Regions from separate parts of the Homo sapiens genome. Here region 2 is linked to region 1. Evidence: fine-mapped expression QTL. Tissue or cell type: whole blood. Region 1 holds a variant in brackets; the other region holds the start of a gene. All regions are shown on one strand. Distances are between the middles of the regions.

Region 1 (8,111 bases):
AAGTCTTATGTTTTACTTTTTCCTAAAGTAAAATGATTGTCTAAAAGCTACTGATGGGGACAGGAGGCAGAGAAATTCTGGGCAGAAAACGGCGGATCCCTGGTGAAGCTTCAACCTCAAGCCTAAAACCCTGAGACCACAGCCCAAAGTGAGAACTTATAACCCTGTTTTCCCATTCAAATGTTGCCTTTTCCTAAGCCACCCATGGCCCTGCCCCACCCCATCATGTACCTATAAAGACCCTGGACTCAGCAAGCAAAGCAGAGAAGCAGCTGGATATTGAGGACTATAGCTAAATGTCAGAGAGAAGTGGCTGGACTTCAAAGGGACAGCTTGATGGCATAACTTTGGAGAAGAATCCTGCCGGAGACAGCTGGACTTCAGAGGAAGATTATCTTCCTTCCCTGTTCCCTTTTCAGCTCCTCTTCCCACTGAAGGCCACTTTCATCAGCAGTAAAATCACACACATTTAACATCCTTCAATTCGTTTGTGCAACCTCATTTTTCCTGGATGCTGAACAAGAGCTTGGGAGCCATAAGTGTGGATACAAAAGGCTGTCTAAGGCAGAGGACCCACTGAGCTGTTAAAACTTAAGCTGTCTGTGGACAGCAGAGCTAAAAGAGCACTGTAACATGCTTTCTGAAGCTTCAAGGGTCACAGGCATCCCCCTGTAGATGCTGCTGCTGTGGGGCCTGCACAGAGTTTGCCCCTGCCAGTACCCAAAAGCGCTCACCCCAAATCCTGCCCGCTCACCTGTGTGCTCCCTCCTGCAGTAAGTCTGAGTAAGTGGAGTTCACTCATGCCAGCACTGAAGTGGACAGCTGTTTCCAGCACTCCTGCAATCCAGTTCTCGCCTCATTCACTCACGCACACCCTTCTGCAAGGAGTTAAGAGCTGCTGGCTGAGTAAATGAGGCACCCCTGTTGCGAGTCCTGTGAAGGGGTCAGGGAAATATCCTGCTTCATGTGGGGGCCTATACAGGATATGTAAGAAGGGTGAGTAAATGCGGATCAGCTGGATCTTTCTCTTCACTTCTTTTCCAAGATTTCTTGTCCTCAGACTTTCCTCTGAGCTATGCTATTTGCAGGGGACAGGATGCAACCCTGTTACCTCTCTCTTCCTGGTGCAAGGAATGTTGGCTCTTTTTACCTTCATGGGGGTCTGGACTTCGTGTCAGACCAGAATAAAGTCCTGGGGCAACTGTAGGCTACTGGCCAAGGTCACTACTCAGTGTTGCCAGAAGGCCCTTAGAGGGGCTCCAGTCCCCAACTGCCCATTAGAACATTAACCAAGACCCTAGACTTTTCTATGGTATCTTTCCCTTTCTTCTTTCACAGTTTGACATGACTCCTATATCTTTTTTCGTAATAATAAGAGTTTTACTGCAAACAGCAGACATTTTACTAGATAGAATGAGCTTTTGGCCCAGCCATCAGATATGCGATTCAGAACAATGTGATTTCCATCTGTATTAGTCAGGATTCTCTGAGAGACAGGACTAATATGATACATTGTGTATACGAAAGCAAGTTTATTAAGTAGTACTGACTCACACGATCACAAGGTGAAGTCCCACAGTAGGTCATCTGCAAGCCAGTCCAAGTTCCAAAACCTCAAAAGTAAGGAAACCAATAGTACAGCTTTCAGCCTGTGGCCAAAGGCCTGAGAGCCTCTGGCAAACCACTGGTGTAAGCCCAAGAGTCCAAAAGCTGAAGAGCTGAGAGTCCAATGTCCAAGGGCAGGAAGCAAACAGCATGAGAGAAAGATGGAGGCCAGAAGACTTAGCCAATCTCGTCCTTCCATATTCATCTGCCACCTTTTATCCTAGCCATGCTGGCAGCTGATTAAATGGTGCCCACCCAGACTGAAGGTGGGTCTGCCTCTCCCAGTCCACTGACTGAAATGTTAATCTTCTTTGGCAACACTCTCAGAGACACACACTGGAACAATACTTTACATCCTTCAATCCAATCAAAAGTTGATACTCGATATTAACCATCACAAGTCCACCTCTTGTCAACTTGAACTCATATACATCTCCTGAAATTATACATAATTTTCAAATAAAGACAATAATAAGGTCTTAATTATGCCTTACATAGTACAGCTATCCTTTTGCAACTGGAAACACACCAATCCCCAACCCAAATGCTATTACATAAAGTTAATAACACTTAGATGCTGATATGAAGTCAATAAACCTTATGTCACATGATAAAGAAAAAAAAGAAAATGAAAATATTTTCTTAGTCAAGTGTATACATGCACAAACATGTTCTTGACAAAATAAGGAGAAAATACTCATGACAATTACAGTCCTCATCTCTGCATCTAGTCATGTGTTCTTAGCTGGTATTGATGACTACTTCTACTACCCATTCTGTATTCCCTTTGCCTTCAGCAAGCACTTCAGCAGGTTGTGGTTTTTTACCTGGTAGAGTGACCGAAACCTTTATTCCTGAAGGTTCTGGGCCATTTGTAGTCCTGTCTGGATTGGGCCGTTGTAGTTTCCCATTGACCTTTATCATAGGGCATGGTAATACTAAGAGACACCCTAAGGGATCTCCTGTATTCCATGTGCACTCTTCCTTACCTCCATTGTGGAGTAGTAGGCTGATTTCATCTTGATGGTCTGAGTCAGTCACCCCAGCCAACAATGTAACTCCTTTCTTAGCCTGTTGACTTAGAGGTAGGAGGAACGCAAGGTGGCCAGGTGACAATCTTAACTTCCAGTTTAATGAAATCATAGTTGTGTCTCCTGGTGGCAGCATTCCTCCCTCTAGAACTAAGACCTCTAGGCCAGCAAAACATAATGTCATGGGAACAGGAAGCAAAAATTTCCTAGTGGGTCACTAGGGGTGATGATGAGTGGTGCCACTTCCACTTCCATCCCTTGATTCCTGGACCTGTAAATCCTGGCTATGGGAGAAACTGTACCATATATTGGACACTAATTCAGAGCATACACAGCCTTCTGAAGAACTTTGCCTCAGCCATGCAAAGTATTGTCACCTAGTTGGCATTGTAATTGTGACTTCGAAAGGCCATTCTACTGTTCTATCAATCCAGCTGCTTCAGGATAATGGATAACATGGTAAATCCAGTGAATCCCATGAGCATGAACCCACTGTCACACTTCTTTAGCTGTAAAGTGAGTGCCTTGGTCAGAGGCAATGCTGTGTATAATACCATGATGGTGGATAAAATATTTTGTGAGTCCACAGATGGTGGTCTTGGCAGAA[G/A]CATTGGTGCAGGATAGGAAACCCATATCCCAAATAAGTGTTTATTCCAGTGAGGACAAACTGCTGCTCTTTCCGTGATGGAAGAGGTCCAGTATAATCAACTTGCCACCAAGTAGCTTGCTGATCACCCCAAGAAATGGTGCCATATTGAGGGCTCAGAGTTGATCTCTGCTGCTGGCAAATTGGGCACTCAACAGCAGTCGTAGCTGGGTCAGCCTTAGTGAGTGGAAGTCTATGTTACTGAGCCCATGTGTAACCTCCATCCCTGCCACCATGGCCACTTTGCTCACGGGCCCATTGGGCAATGACAGGGTGGCTGGGGAAAGAGGCTGAGTGGTATCCACAGAACGAGTCGTCCTATCCACCTGATTATTAAAATGCTCCTCTGTTAAGGTCACCCTTCAGTGAACACTCACATGAGATACAAATATCTTTACAGTGTTTGACCACTCAGAGAGGTCCACACACATATCTCTTCCCCAAATTTGTCACCAATTTTCCAATCATGCTTCTTCCAAGTCCCTGACCATCTGGCCCAACCATTGGCTACAGCCCATAAACCAATATATAATTGGACATCTGGCCATTTCTTCTTCCAACCAAAGTGCACAACCAGGTACACTTCTTGAAGTTCTGCTCACTGGGAAGATTTCCCTTTGCCATTGTCCTTTAGGAATGTCCTTGAAAGGGGCTGTAGTGCTGCAGCTGTCCACATTCAGATGGTGCCTGCATATCATGGAGAGCTATCTGCAAACAGGGAACTTGTCTTCTCTTCCTCAGTCAATTGATCATAGGTAACTCCCCATGAGGCCATCGCTGAAGGCTGGGGGAGAGAAGGCAGGGTGGCAGGAGTGGGGACCATGGTCATTTGAGCCACTCTTTCATGTAACTTGCTTGTGACCTCAGGACTTGCTCAAGCCCGATCACGTATACACCACTTCCATTTAATGATGGAATGCTGCTGTGCATACCTCACTTTGTGGCTAAATGGATCAGAAAGTACCCAGTTTATGATAGGCATTTCAGGTCGCATGGTGACTTGATAACCCATAGTCAAATGTTCAGTTTCTACCAAAGCCCAGTAACAGGCCAAAAGCTGTCTCTCAAAAGAAGAGTAGTTATCTACAGAAGATGGCAGGTCCTTGCCCCGAAACCTTAGAGGCCTCTGCTGTGATTCACCTATAGGGGCCTGCCAAAGCTCCAAACAGCATCCCTATCTGCCACTGACACCTCAAGCACCGTTGGATCTGCTGGGTCATATGGCCCAAGTGGCAGAGCAGCTTGCACAGCAGCCTAGACCTGTTGCAGAGCCTTCTCCTGTTATGGACCCCATTCAATTCTAGGAGCCTTCCAGGTCACTCAATAAATGGGCTGGAGTAAGACACTCAAATGAGTAATGTGTTGCCTCCAAAATCCAAATAGGCCTACTAGGCATTATGCCTCTTTATTGGTTGTAGGGGTGGCCAAATGCAGCAACTTATCCTTCACTTTAGAAGGAGTATCTCAACAGGTCTCACACCACTGGACCCCTGGAAATTTTGCTGAGGTAGAAGTTCCCTGAATTTCAGTCAGTTTTATTTCCCATCCCCTGGCATGCAAATATCTCACCAATAAGCCCAATGTGTTTGCTACTTATGACCTACTGGATCCAGTCATCCTAATGTCATCAATGTAATGGACCAGTATGATATCTTGTGGAAGGGAAAGGGATTAAGATATCTGCAAACAAGATTATGATGCAAAGCTGGAGAGTAATGGATCCCTGAGGTAGGACAGCTGAAGGCAATTTGCAAGCTGAAGGCAATTTGCTTCTGCTGGGCCTTGTGGACAAGAAGGGAGGAAAAGGCATTTGCCAAATCAGTGATTGCATACCAGGTACCAGGAGGTGTGTTAATTTGTTCAAGCAATGAAACCACATCTGGTACAGCAGCTGAAATTGAAGTCACCATTTGATTAAGATTACAGTAATCCACTGTCATTCTCCAAGATCTATCTATCTTCTGTATGGGCCAAATAGGAGAGTTGAACAGGGATCTGCATCTTTCAAGTCCTTCATGGTGGCACTGATCTCTGCAATCTCTTCAGGGATGCAATATTGTTTTGACTTACTATTTTTTTAGGTAGAGGCAGCTCTAATGGCTTCCATTTGAGCTGCCTTTCATTTTCCACCATAATAACCCTCACCCTACCAGTCAGGGAGCCAATGTGGGGATTCTACCAGCTGCTAAGTATGTCTATGCGAATTATGGATTCTGGCACTGGGGAAATAACCACAGGATGAGTCTGGGTACCCATTGGACTGACTGGAAGTGGGACATTAGCTAAAACTCCATACATTACCTGACCTACATAAGCCCCTACTTTAACTGGAGGACCACAGTGGCATTTTGGGTTCCCTGGAATGAATGTCAGCTAAGAGCCAGTGACCAGTATTCCCCAAATAATCTGATCATTTTCCTTTCTGCAATGCACAGAAAGGCTACAAGAGGTGAACCCCAGAGGCCCCTCTAGCAATGGAGCCAGCTCCCTCTTGCCTGCTCCTCTTGGTCCACCCCATCCTCCCTATCCAGTTTATCTCTCCTGTTTGCTCCCTCCTAGAAATCCTCACCCTAGATAAGCCCCAGTCCCACTCTTGCCCCTCCAACAGATGCCTGGTGAATTTGGTCCCTGGTAAGATCCAGGTCCCTTTCCCTCTAAAGGACTTAAGGCCAATTAAGGGGGATCTTGGCAAGTTTTCACATGATGCTGACAGATGTATAGAGGCTTTCCAGAACTTAACTCAAGTATTTGAACTCTCCTGGGAAGATGTTATGCTACTTTTGAATCAAAGCCTGACTAACACTGAGAAGCAGGCTACTCTGCAAGTGGCAGAGAGATTTGGGGAATGAGCTTTCTATTACATACAGTGTCAGGGAAGGGGTCAAACTTTATCCAACTAGAAGAGAAGCAGTACCGTTGGATAACCCTAAATGGGATCTCACTGACAAGATGGGAGAATGGAAGAGGAGACACATTCAGGTGTGCATAATGGAGGGATTATGTAGGACTAGAACTAAGCTTCTCAATTATTCTAAGTTATCCATGATAGACCAGGTATTTGATGAGAATCCCACTGCTCTCCTGGAAAGGTTAAAAGAGGCCTTGGTGAAGCACAACTCTCTACTTCCTGATTCAGTTAAGGGACAACTAATCCTAAAGGATAAATTTATTACTCAGGCAGCCCCTGAGATCAGGAGGAAGCTGCAGAAACAGGCCCTGGGACCAGATAGTACTTTAGAGAACCTCCTGAAAGCAGCCACCTGTCTTTTACAATAGGTCACTGGAATAGATTCTTGAATTTATTACACCCATGTAAATGCCTGGGAAGCTGATGAACCCAAAGAGTACCCAAAGTACCAATATGAAGAGGTTGGGGACCTCAAGCTAAAAATTACAAAAGATAAGTGTTAAACTTCCATGGATATCCTCTTTATAGTCTTGCCTATGTTCGCTGTTTTTACCTTTATTCTGTTCTATACTGCAGGATACAATATTGTGTCTAGAAGGAATAGTATATTTTACTTCTTATTTCTGTAAACTTTGTCACCAGATTATCTCCTTTTAACCCCGTTTTGTATAATACATATATTTGATCCATGCAAACTTATCCCTGTAAAACTTGTTTCTTCTCACCTAAAGGCGATCAAATTCCAAAGGGTCATGTAACTGGAGCCTCGGACAATGGCTCCCTTTTACCAGAGGCCCTTAGGTAAACCTCTGAGGGAAATCTGACCACTGTTTTCTTCAAAACAGTGTCCCCAGTAAGCAGAAAGTAGCTAAGATCGGTCATTGTCTGTATTCTAATGGCAGTGAGATGTTCCGCTTTGAAAAGGGAAATGATGGGGAAAGGAGGCAGAGAAATTCTAGGTAAAAAAGGGCAGGTCCCTGGTGAAGCCCTATCCTCAAGCTGAAAAGCCCGAGACCATGGCCAAAGTGAGAACTGTTTTCCCATGCGAACTTTGCCTTTTCCTAAGTCACCCATGACCCTGCCCCACCCCATCCTGTGCCTATAATGACTCCAGACTCAGCCAGCAGAGGGAAGAAGCAGCTGGACCTTGGGGACTACAGCTAGACATTGGAGAGAAGTGGCTTGACTTCAGAGGGATGGCTTGACCACGTAACTTTGGAGAAGAATCCTGCTGAACATGGCTGGACTTCAGGGGAAGATTACTTCCCCTTTTCAGCTCTCTTTCCCACTGAGAGCCACTTTCATTGGCAATAAAATCTCCCACATTTACCATCCTTTAAATCATTCATGCGACATCATTTTCCGTGGACACCTGACAACAGCTTGGGAGCCACAAGTGTGAATACAAAAGGCTTCATACTGGCCCTTTTCCCTCGCTGGCAGAAGGCAGCCACCTCACATGAAAAGAAAGAAGTCCCACTGAACTATTAACATTTTAGCTGTCTGTGGATGGGAGAGCTAAAAGAATACTGTAACATGTCCTCTGGGACTTCAGGGGTCACAGGCACCATCCCATTGATGCTGCTGCAAAGCCCACATGGAGTTTGCTCCTGCCAGTGCCTAAATGTGCTTGCCCTGGCTCCTGCACTCGCTCACCTGTGCACTCCCTCCTGAAAGGGGTGGAACACAGCAGGTGCAAGTGAGTGGAGTTTGCTCCTGCTGGCACCAAAGCAGCCAGCTGGTTCCAGGGCTCATGCAATCCAGTTCCTGCCTCATTTGATAGCGTGCTCCCTCCCACAAGAGTTGAAAGCTGCTGACTGAGTAAATGAGGCACCTCTGTTGTGAGTCCTGTGAAAGGGTCAGGGAAATATTCTTCTTCACTACCAAAAGACATGCTTTCATGAGTAGGCTGACAGAACTA
Region 2 (8,111 bases), 27 kb before region 1:
AATAAATGCCTGTTTACACAACTGGTGTCTTCCCCTAAACCTAAACTTCAAACTTCAAACTCCAAACTCCACCGATTTGGATAGTATTAGAAATGGCATTCATATTAATGGTTATAGTACATTTTTTTACATGTGAATGCAAATGGAATTGTTAGGCATTAAAAAAGAAAGCTTATATAGTGGAAGAAAATAAAGCATCTAGACATAAGCTTTAAGAGATCTATTGTGTTAATACAGCTTTACTTTTTGAGTGGTAAGCTTTTAAAAAGAAATGTGGTGCTCTAACTCCAGGAAAAGATAAGGGTGACTGAAGTGATAGTCTAGAGGAAAAAGATGCAGACATTTACTGAGTACCTCCAATGTGCCAGGTGCCATTCTGGGCATTTTCATTATGTTTCCTCATTTAATTCTCATGGTGATCCTTTGGAACTGTGTTATTCTCATTTTTACAGATGAGGTAACTGAGAGACAGTCAGATTAAAGAACTGCCTATGATTGTTTGGCTAATAATAAGTGGAGGGGTGAGGCTTGAAGGCAGGTTTGTCTTATTCCAACACCCATACATACCCTTAAATTTAAGTTATTCTGACTTGTGTTGCTCAAATCCAATGTGTTCAGCTGTTTGCTTCTCCAATTACCAAGATTTTTCTTTAAAAGGTAGGACACTTTTGGCAACACGAACCAACTTTGCTCAGTATTGTTATAAACTGTTAACTGGAGACATTTGAATTTGGAGATGGAACTGAAATGGTCTTGCGGTACTAGAGAAGATCAAGTTATCACATAAACAAAGTACAGAGCTGAGAACATATTTTAAATCTTTCCACTAACTCTGACTTTTATTGACTAAAATTTTAGTGGGCAGTATGTTTATGTTTATGACTCTTAACATTAACAACATCGTAAGTCAAACTCACTAATATATGTTAAGCATTCTGTTTATGATTCTTTTAACCTAGAGGATTGTTGAGCTGGGACTAATTTCCTCAAATGGGAAAAAAACCCAGGTGAGAGCTGAGACTGCTCCTGAGACTGAGAAAGGCAGCTCTGACGGGATCTCAGATTTTAGCAGCAGGAGTTGAACAATGGGCATAGAATCAGCTTGCCCAAGATCTCCTGATTAATAAACCATGGAACAAGATTTAAACCCAAGTTCATTTCATTTCAAAGCTCATACCACATTTTGCCCACCATATTTTGCTTTGTTATATGACTACAACTTAGTTCAGGCTTACAAAAAAGTCCTAATTCTAAAATTCCTATGGCGTGGGTGGGAGGGGATTTAGATGATTTTGCATAGGCAAGAAACACCCAGTTTCATGGAGTTTGATGGAAGAGTTATGTACTAATATGGGAAAAGTAGAGGCCATCTTTGTCTTTGTTCTTTCTTTTTTAGACGGGAGTCTCGCTCTTTCACCCAGGCTGGAGTGCAGTGGCGCTATCTCGGCTCACTGCAAGCTCCGCCTCCTGGGTTCACGCCATTCTCCTGCCTCAGCCTCCTGAGTAGCTGGGACTACAGGCGCCCGCCACCGCTCCCGGCTAATTTTTTATATTTTCAGTAGAGACGGGGTTTCACCGTGTTAGCTAAGATGGTTTGGATCTCCTGAACTCGTGATCCGCCCGCCTCGGACTCCCAAAGTGCTGGGATTACAGGCTTGAGCCACCGCGCCCGGCCGTCTTTGTTCTTTCTTGAACTCTTCCTTTTCTTGGGTGATAGACTTCGTCAACGTCTAATGAGGATATCTAGGTGCTAGTCTCTGCTCATCAAATGATTCTTATGGCTCAGGAGCCGAATGGGACGTAAATAAACAGTTAAGTCTCATGAACTCACTTTGCATTCATCTCTAGAAGATGACAAAACATTTGTATTTATGTGTAGCGTGGCACTTTAGTTAAACTTTGTACCCCACTTTGCTCTATTTTAAAGCAGAATATCCTTAAAAAGGATACTTAGTCCTGCTTTTTTTTTTCCGCCTAAGCCCATTTAGTCCTTCTACTCATTATGCAAGGACTCAAATGGTTATCTTTACAGAAGTGAGACAAGATAGAATCAATGCTCTTGTAGTCACTTCATCTTTGTCCATTCCCACTTCTGATGGAGAGGGTTCTAGGACATAATGCACTGAAGGTTACATTGTGAGAGATGAACAACATTTGCAAAAGAGGTCTTTTTGCCTTGGAAAGGCTTCATTCTTAAAAAAAAATGTGAGCATCAAGGTTAAGTAGACCTCATTAGCTCAAACTTTAAGGATGATATCAGGATAAAGTTGGGCCCATGAGAAGAGAATGAGAGGGAGATATAGTGACATGAAAATAAGGAGGAAAACGAGGTGTCTATGTAAGTTGGGCTCACCATAAATACAAAGGCAACCGTTAGGGAAAAGCAAAGAAGTCTTTGCACATCCTCAGAACTCTGAATGTCTTAGTGATGCTGTATGAGTGAGTCTTAATGATAGTGAACTGAATCAGTCAAGCCAGGTTGTGTCCATATGAGAATGTGTCTTTGCTAAACATGCCAACATCACTGAAGCAAAGAAACTTGGAGTTTTCTTTAAGATATAGGTCTTTTTTACCTATCCGGCCCAAGCTTTCTCTTCTTGTCACTCCATGCACTGTGTTCCGTATGCTAAATAGTTTGAGAAACCCAAATGGGCCATGTTCGCCTACATTTCATTGTCCTGTACTTCCTGTCCTGTACTAGCAAAGCAGTCCCATTGGTCTTTCTTCTCCTCATTAACAATAAAGGTAACACTTTTGATGTTGTTTCTTCAGAAAACCTTCATTCATCAAAACTGCCTCAAAGATCATGTTTGTTTGATTCCAGAACTTCCTGTAATTACCTGTTATTGTAACACTCATCACTGTATTTTACTTACTTGTGTAACTAATTTTCCATATTCTGCACTAGACAACAAAGTCCTTTAAGTCAGGTACTATATCTATTTACATAGCATTCACATCTCCTACAATAAGGGACATTAGCAGATAAACAACACATATTAAATGAATAATGAAGTTTCTGAAATACTACAGTTGAAAACTATAGGAGCTACATTATATAGAATAAACATTTACTTTGCTATAGAATTCAGTGTAACCCAGGCATTATTTTATCCTCAAGTCTTAGGTTGGTTGGAGAAAGATAACAAAAAGAAACATGATTGTGCAGAAACAGACAAACCTTTTTGGAAAGCATTTGAAAATGGCATTCCCCCTCCACAGTGTGTTCACAGTGTGGGCAAATTCACTGCTCTGTCGTACTTTCTGAAAATGAAGAACTGTTACACCAAGGTGAATTATTTATAAATTATGTACTTGCCCAGAAGCGAACAGACTTTTACTATCATAAGAACCCTTCCTTGGTGCTCTTTATCTACAGAATCCAAGACCTTTCAAGAAAGGTCTTGGATTCTTTTCTTCAGGACACTAGGACATAAAGCCACCTTTTTATGATTTGTTGAAATTTCTCACTCCATCCCTTTTGCTAGTGATCATGGGTCCTCAGAGGTCAGACTTGGTGTCCTTGGATAAAGAGCATGAAGCAACAGTGGCTGAACCAGAGTTGGAACCCAGATGCTCTTTCCACTAAGCATACAACTTTCCATTAGATAACACCTCCCTCCCACCCCAACCAAGCAGCTCCAGTGCACCACTTTCTGGAGCATAAACATACCTTAACTTTACAACTTGAGTGGCCTTGAATACTGTTCCTATCTGGAATGTGCTGTTCTCTTTCATCTTCCTCTATTGAAGCCCTCCTATTCCTCAATGCCTTGCTCCAACTGCCTTTGGAAGATTCTGCTCTTATGCCTCCACTGGAATTAATGTCTTAGTACCACTTGTCTATTCTGCTATATAGTCAGTCCTTACATTGCTTTCTTCTTCTGATAGACCAAACTCTTTAAGGACAAGTACCTAGTCTTATCTATTTCTAGATCCCCCACATTACTCAGAAAGTTACTCCATAAATGTTTGTGGAACTGATTTCTATGTGAAGCACATGTGCCCCTTCACTCTGTTAACATGCATTAGAAAACTAAATCTTTTGAAAAGTTGTAGTATGCCCCCTAAGAGCAGTAACAGTTCCTAGAAACTCTCTAAAATGCTTAGAAAAAGATTTATTTTAAATTACCTCCCCAATAAAATGATTGGCTGGCTTATCTTCACCATCATGATAGCATCTGTAATTAACTGAAAAAAAATAATTATGCCATTAAAAGAAAATCATCCATGATCTTGTTCTAACACCTGCCACTCTAGTACTATATCTGTCACATGGTACTATGATAAAGTTATCTAGAAATAAAAAAGCATACAATTGATAATTCACCAAATTGTGGAGCTTCAGTATTTTAAATGTATATTAAAATTAAATTATTTTAAAGATCAAAGAAAACTTTCGTCATACTCCGTATTTGATAAGGAACAAATAGGAAGTGTGATGACTCAGGTTTGCCCTGAGGGGATGGGCCATCAGTTGCAAATCGTGGAATTTCCTCTGACATAATGAAAAGATGAGGGTGCATAAGTTCTCTAGTAGGGTGATGATATAAAAAGCCACCGGAGCACTCCATAAGGCACAAACTTTCAGAGACAGCAGAGCACACAAGCTTCTAGGACAAGAGCCAGGAAGAAACCACCGGAAGGAACCATCTCACTGTGTGTAAACATGACTTCCAAGCTGGCCGTGGCTCTCTTGGCAGCCTTCCTGATTTCTGCAGCTCTGTGTGAAGGTAAGCACATCTTTCTGACCTACAGCGTTTTCCTATGTCTAAATGTGATCCTTAGATAGCAAAGCTATTCTTGATGCTTTGGTAACAAACATCCTTTTTATTCAGAAACAGAATATAATCTTAGCAGTCAATTAATGTTAAATTGAAGATTTAGAAAAAACTATATATAACACTTAGGAAAGTATAAAGTTTGATCAATATAGATATTCTGCTTTTATAATTTATACCATGTAGCATGCATATATTTAACGTAAATAAGTAATTTATAGTATGTCCTATTGAGAACCACGGTTACCTATATTATGTATTAATATTGAGTTGAGCAAGGTAACTCAGACAATTCCACTCCTTGTAGTATTTCATTGACAAGCCTCAGATTTGTCATTAATTCCTGTCTGGTTTAAAGATACCCTGATTATAGACCAGGCATGTATAACTTATTTATATATTTCTGTTAATTCTTTCTGAAGGCAATTTCTATGCTGGAGAGTCTTAGCTTGCCTACTATAAATAACACTGTGGTATCACAGAGGATTATGCAATATTGACCAGATAAAAATACCATGAAGATGTTGATATTGTACAAAAAGAACTCTAACTCTTTATATAGGAAGTCGTTCAATGTTGTCAGTTATGACTGTTTTTTAAAACAAAGAACTAACTGAGGTCAAGGGCTAGGAGAATATTCAGGAATGAGTTCACTAGAAACATGATGCCTTCCATAGTCTCCAAATAATCATATTGGAATTAGAAAGGAAGTAGCTGGCAGAGCTGTGCCTGTTGATAAAATCAATCCTTAATCACTTTTTCCCCCAACAGGTGCAGTTTTGCCAAGGAGTGCTAAAGAACTTAGATGTCAGTGCATAAAGACATACTCCAAACCTTTCCACCCCAAATTTATCAAAGAACTGAGAGTGATTGAGAGTGGACCACACTGCGCCAACACAGAAATTATGTAAGTACTTTAAAAAAGATTAGATATTTTGTTTTAGCAAACTTAAAATTAAGGAAGGTGGAAATATTTAGGAAAGTTCCAGGTGTTAGGATTACAGTAGTAAATGAAACAAAACAAAATAAAAATATTTGTCTACATGACATTTAAATATGGTAGCTTCCACAACTACTATAAATGTTATTTTGGACTTAGACTTTATGCCTGACTTAAGGAATCATGATTTGAATGCAAAAACTAAATATTAATCTGAACCATTTCTTTCTTATTTCAGTGTAAAGCTTTCTGATGGAAGAGAGCTCTGTCTGGACCCCAAGGAAAACTGGGTGCAGAGGGTTGTGGAGAAGTTTTTGAAGAGGTAAGTTATATATTTTTTAATTTAAATTTTTCATTTATCCTGAGACATATAATCCAAAGTCAGCCTATAAATTTCTTTCTGTTGCTAAAAATCGTCATTAGGTATCTGCCTTTTTGGTTAAAAAAAAAAGGAATAGCATCAATAGTGAGTTTGTTGTACTCATGACCAGAAAGACCATACATAGTTTGCCCAGGAAATTCTGGGTTTAAGCTTGTGTCCTATACTCTTAGTAAAGTTCTTTGTCACTCCCAGTAGTGTCCTATTTTAGATGATAATTTCTTTGATCTCCCTATTTATAGTTGAGAATATAGAGCATTTCTAACACATGAATGTCAAAGACTATATTGACTTTTCAAGAACCCTACTTTCCTTCTTATTAAACATAGCTCATCTTTATATTTTTAATTTTATTTTAGGGCTGAGAATTCATAAAAAAATTCATTCTCTGTGGTATCCAAGAATCAGTGAAGATGCCAGTGAAACTTCAAGCAAATCTACTTCAACACTTCATGTATTGTGTGGGTCTGTTGTAGGGTTGCCAGATGCAATACAAGATTCCTGGTTAAATTTGAATTTCAGTAAACAATGAATAGTTTTTCATTGTACCATGAAATATCCAGAACATACTTATATGTAAAGTATTATTTATTTGAATCTACAAAAAACAACAAATAATTTTTAAATATAAGGATTTTCCTAGATATTGCACGGGAGAATATACAAATAGCAAAATTGAGGCCAAGGGCCAAGAGAATATCCGAACTTTAATTTCAGGAATTGAATGGGTTTGCTAGAATGTGATATTTGAAGCATCACATAAAAATGATGGGACAATAAATTTTGCCATAAAGTCAAATTTAGCTGGAAATCCTGGATTTTTTTCTGTTAAATCTGGCAACCCTAGTCTGCTAGCCAGGATCCACAAGTCCTTGTTCCACTGTGCCTTGGTTTCTCCTTTATTTCTAAGTGGAAAAAGTATTAGCCACCATCTTACCTCACAGTGATGTTGTGAGGACATGTGGAAGCACTTTAAGTTTTTTCATCATAACATAAATTATTTTCAAGTGTAACTTATTAACCTATTTATTATTTATGTATTTATTTAAGCATCAAATATTTGTGCAAGAATTTGGAAAAATAGAAGATGAATCATTGATTGAATAGTTATAAAGATGTTATAGTAAATTTATTTTATTTTAGATATTAAATGATGTTTTATTAGATAAATTTCAATCAGGGTTTTTAGATTAAACAAACAAACAATTGGGTACCCAGTTAAATTTTCATTTCAGATAAACAACAAATAATTTTTTAGTATAAGTACATTATTGTTTATCTGAAATTTTAATTGAACTAACAATCCTAGTTTGATACTCCCAGTCTTGTCATTGCCAGCTGTGTTGGTAGTGCTGTGTTGAATTACGGAATAATGAGTTAGAACTATTAAAACAGCCAAAACTCCACAGTCAATATTAGTAATTTCTTGCTGGTTGAAACTTGTTTATTATGTACAAATAGATTCTTATAATATTATTTAAATGACTGCATTTTTAAATACAAGGCTTTATATTTTTAACTTTAAGATGTTTTTATGTGCTCTCCAAATTTTTTTTACTGTTTCTGATTGTATGGAAATATAAAAGTAAATATGAAACATTTAAAATATAATTTGTTGTCAAAGTAATCAAGTGTTTGTCTTTTTTTTAGTTTTAGCTTATTGGGATTCTCTTTGTTTATATTTAAAATTATACTTTGATTTAGAAAACATAAATGCTTCCCCTTAGCATTTTGTTTATGGAAAATTACAAACTTTTATTTTTAGAAAACAGAACTCCTTTCCAGAAATAGGTTACAAACAGTAGTGTCCTCCACAGAATGTTGGAAATGTTTTCAACTCCCCACTGTATACTATCTTGCTAATAAGTCTGTCTTCAGATTTCGATTAACCGGTTTGTATGTCTGTGCGCTTTAGCATAGCTGGACATTTAAAGAGGAAAGAGAGTACATATTATAAGTTGCTTATCAGTAACTGAGGAGTAAAACTGATAAATGTGAGGCAAAGAAGTTT

What was found. PIP is the estimated chance that this variant, and not a neighbour inherited with it, causes the effect.
Region 2: CXCL8 starts here. The variant in region 1 is fine-mapped to the expression of CXCL8 in whole blood (TOPMed, PIP above 0.99).

Annotation. Positions count from the first base shown.
Region 1 is chr4:73,763,180-73,771,290 of GRCh38, forward strand. No RefSeq gene overlaps it. Among named protein-coding and RNA genes, the nearest start is that of CXCL8, 27 kb to the left of the region's middle. The variant G/A (reference allele first, on the strand shown) is at 3,244.
Region 2 is chr4:73,735,990-73,744,100 of GRCh38, forward strand. CXCL8 (C-X-C motif chemokine ligand 8) reads left to right here and starts at 4,580. Exons shown (of 4, transcript NM_000584.4): 1 at 4,580-4,733; 2 at 5,553-5,688; 3 at 5,960-6,043; 4 at 6,460-7,727. The coding sequence starts at 4,670. The coding sequence ends at 6,475. RefSeq lists a silencer at 3,043-3,337.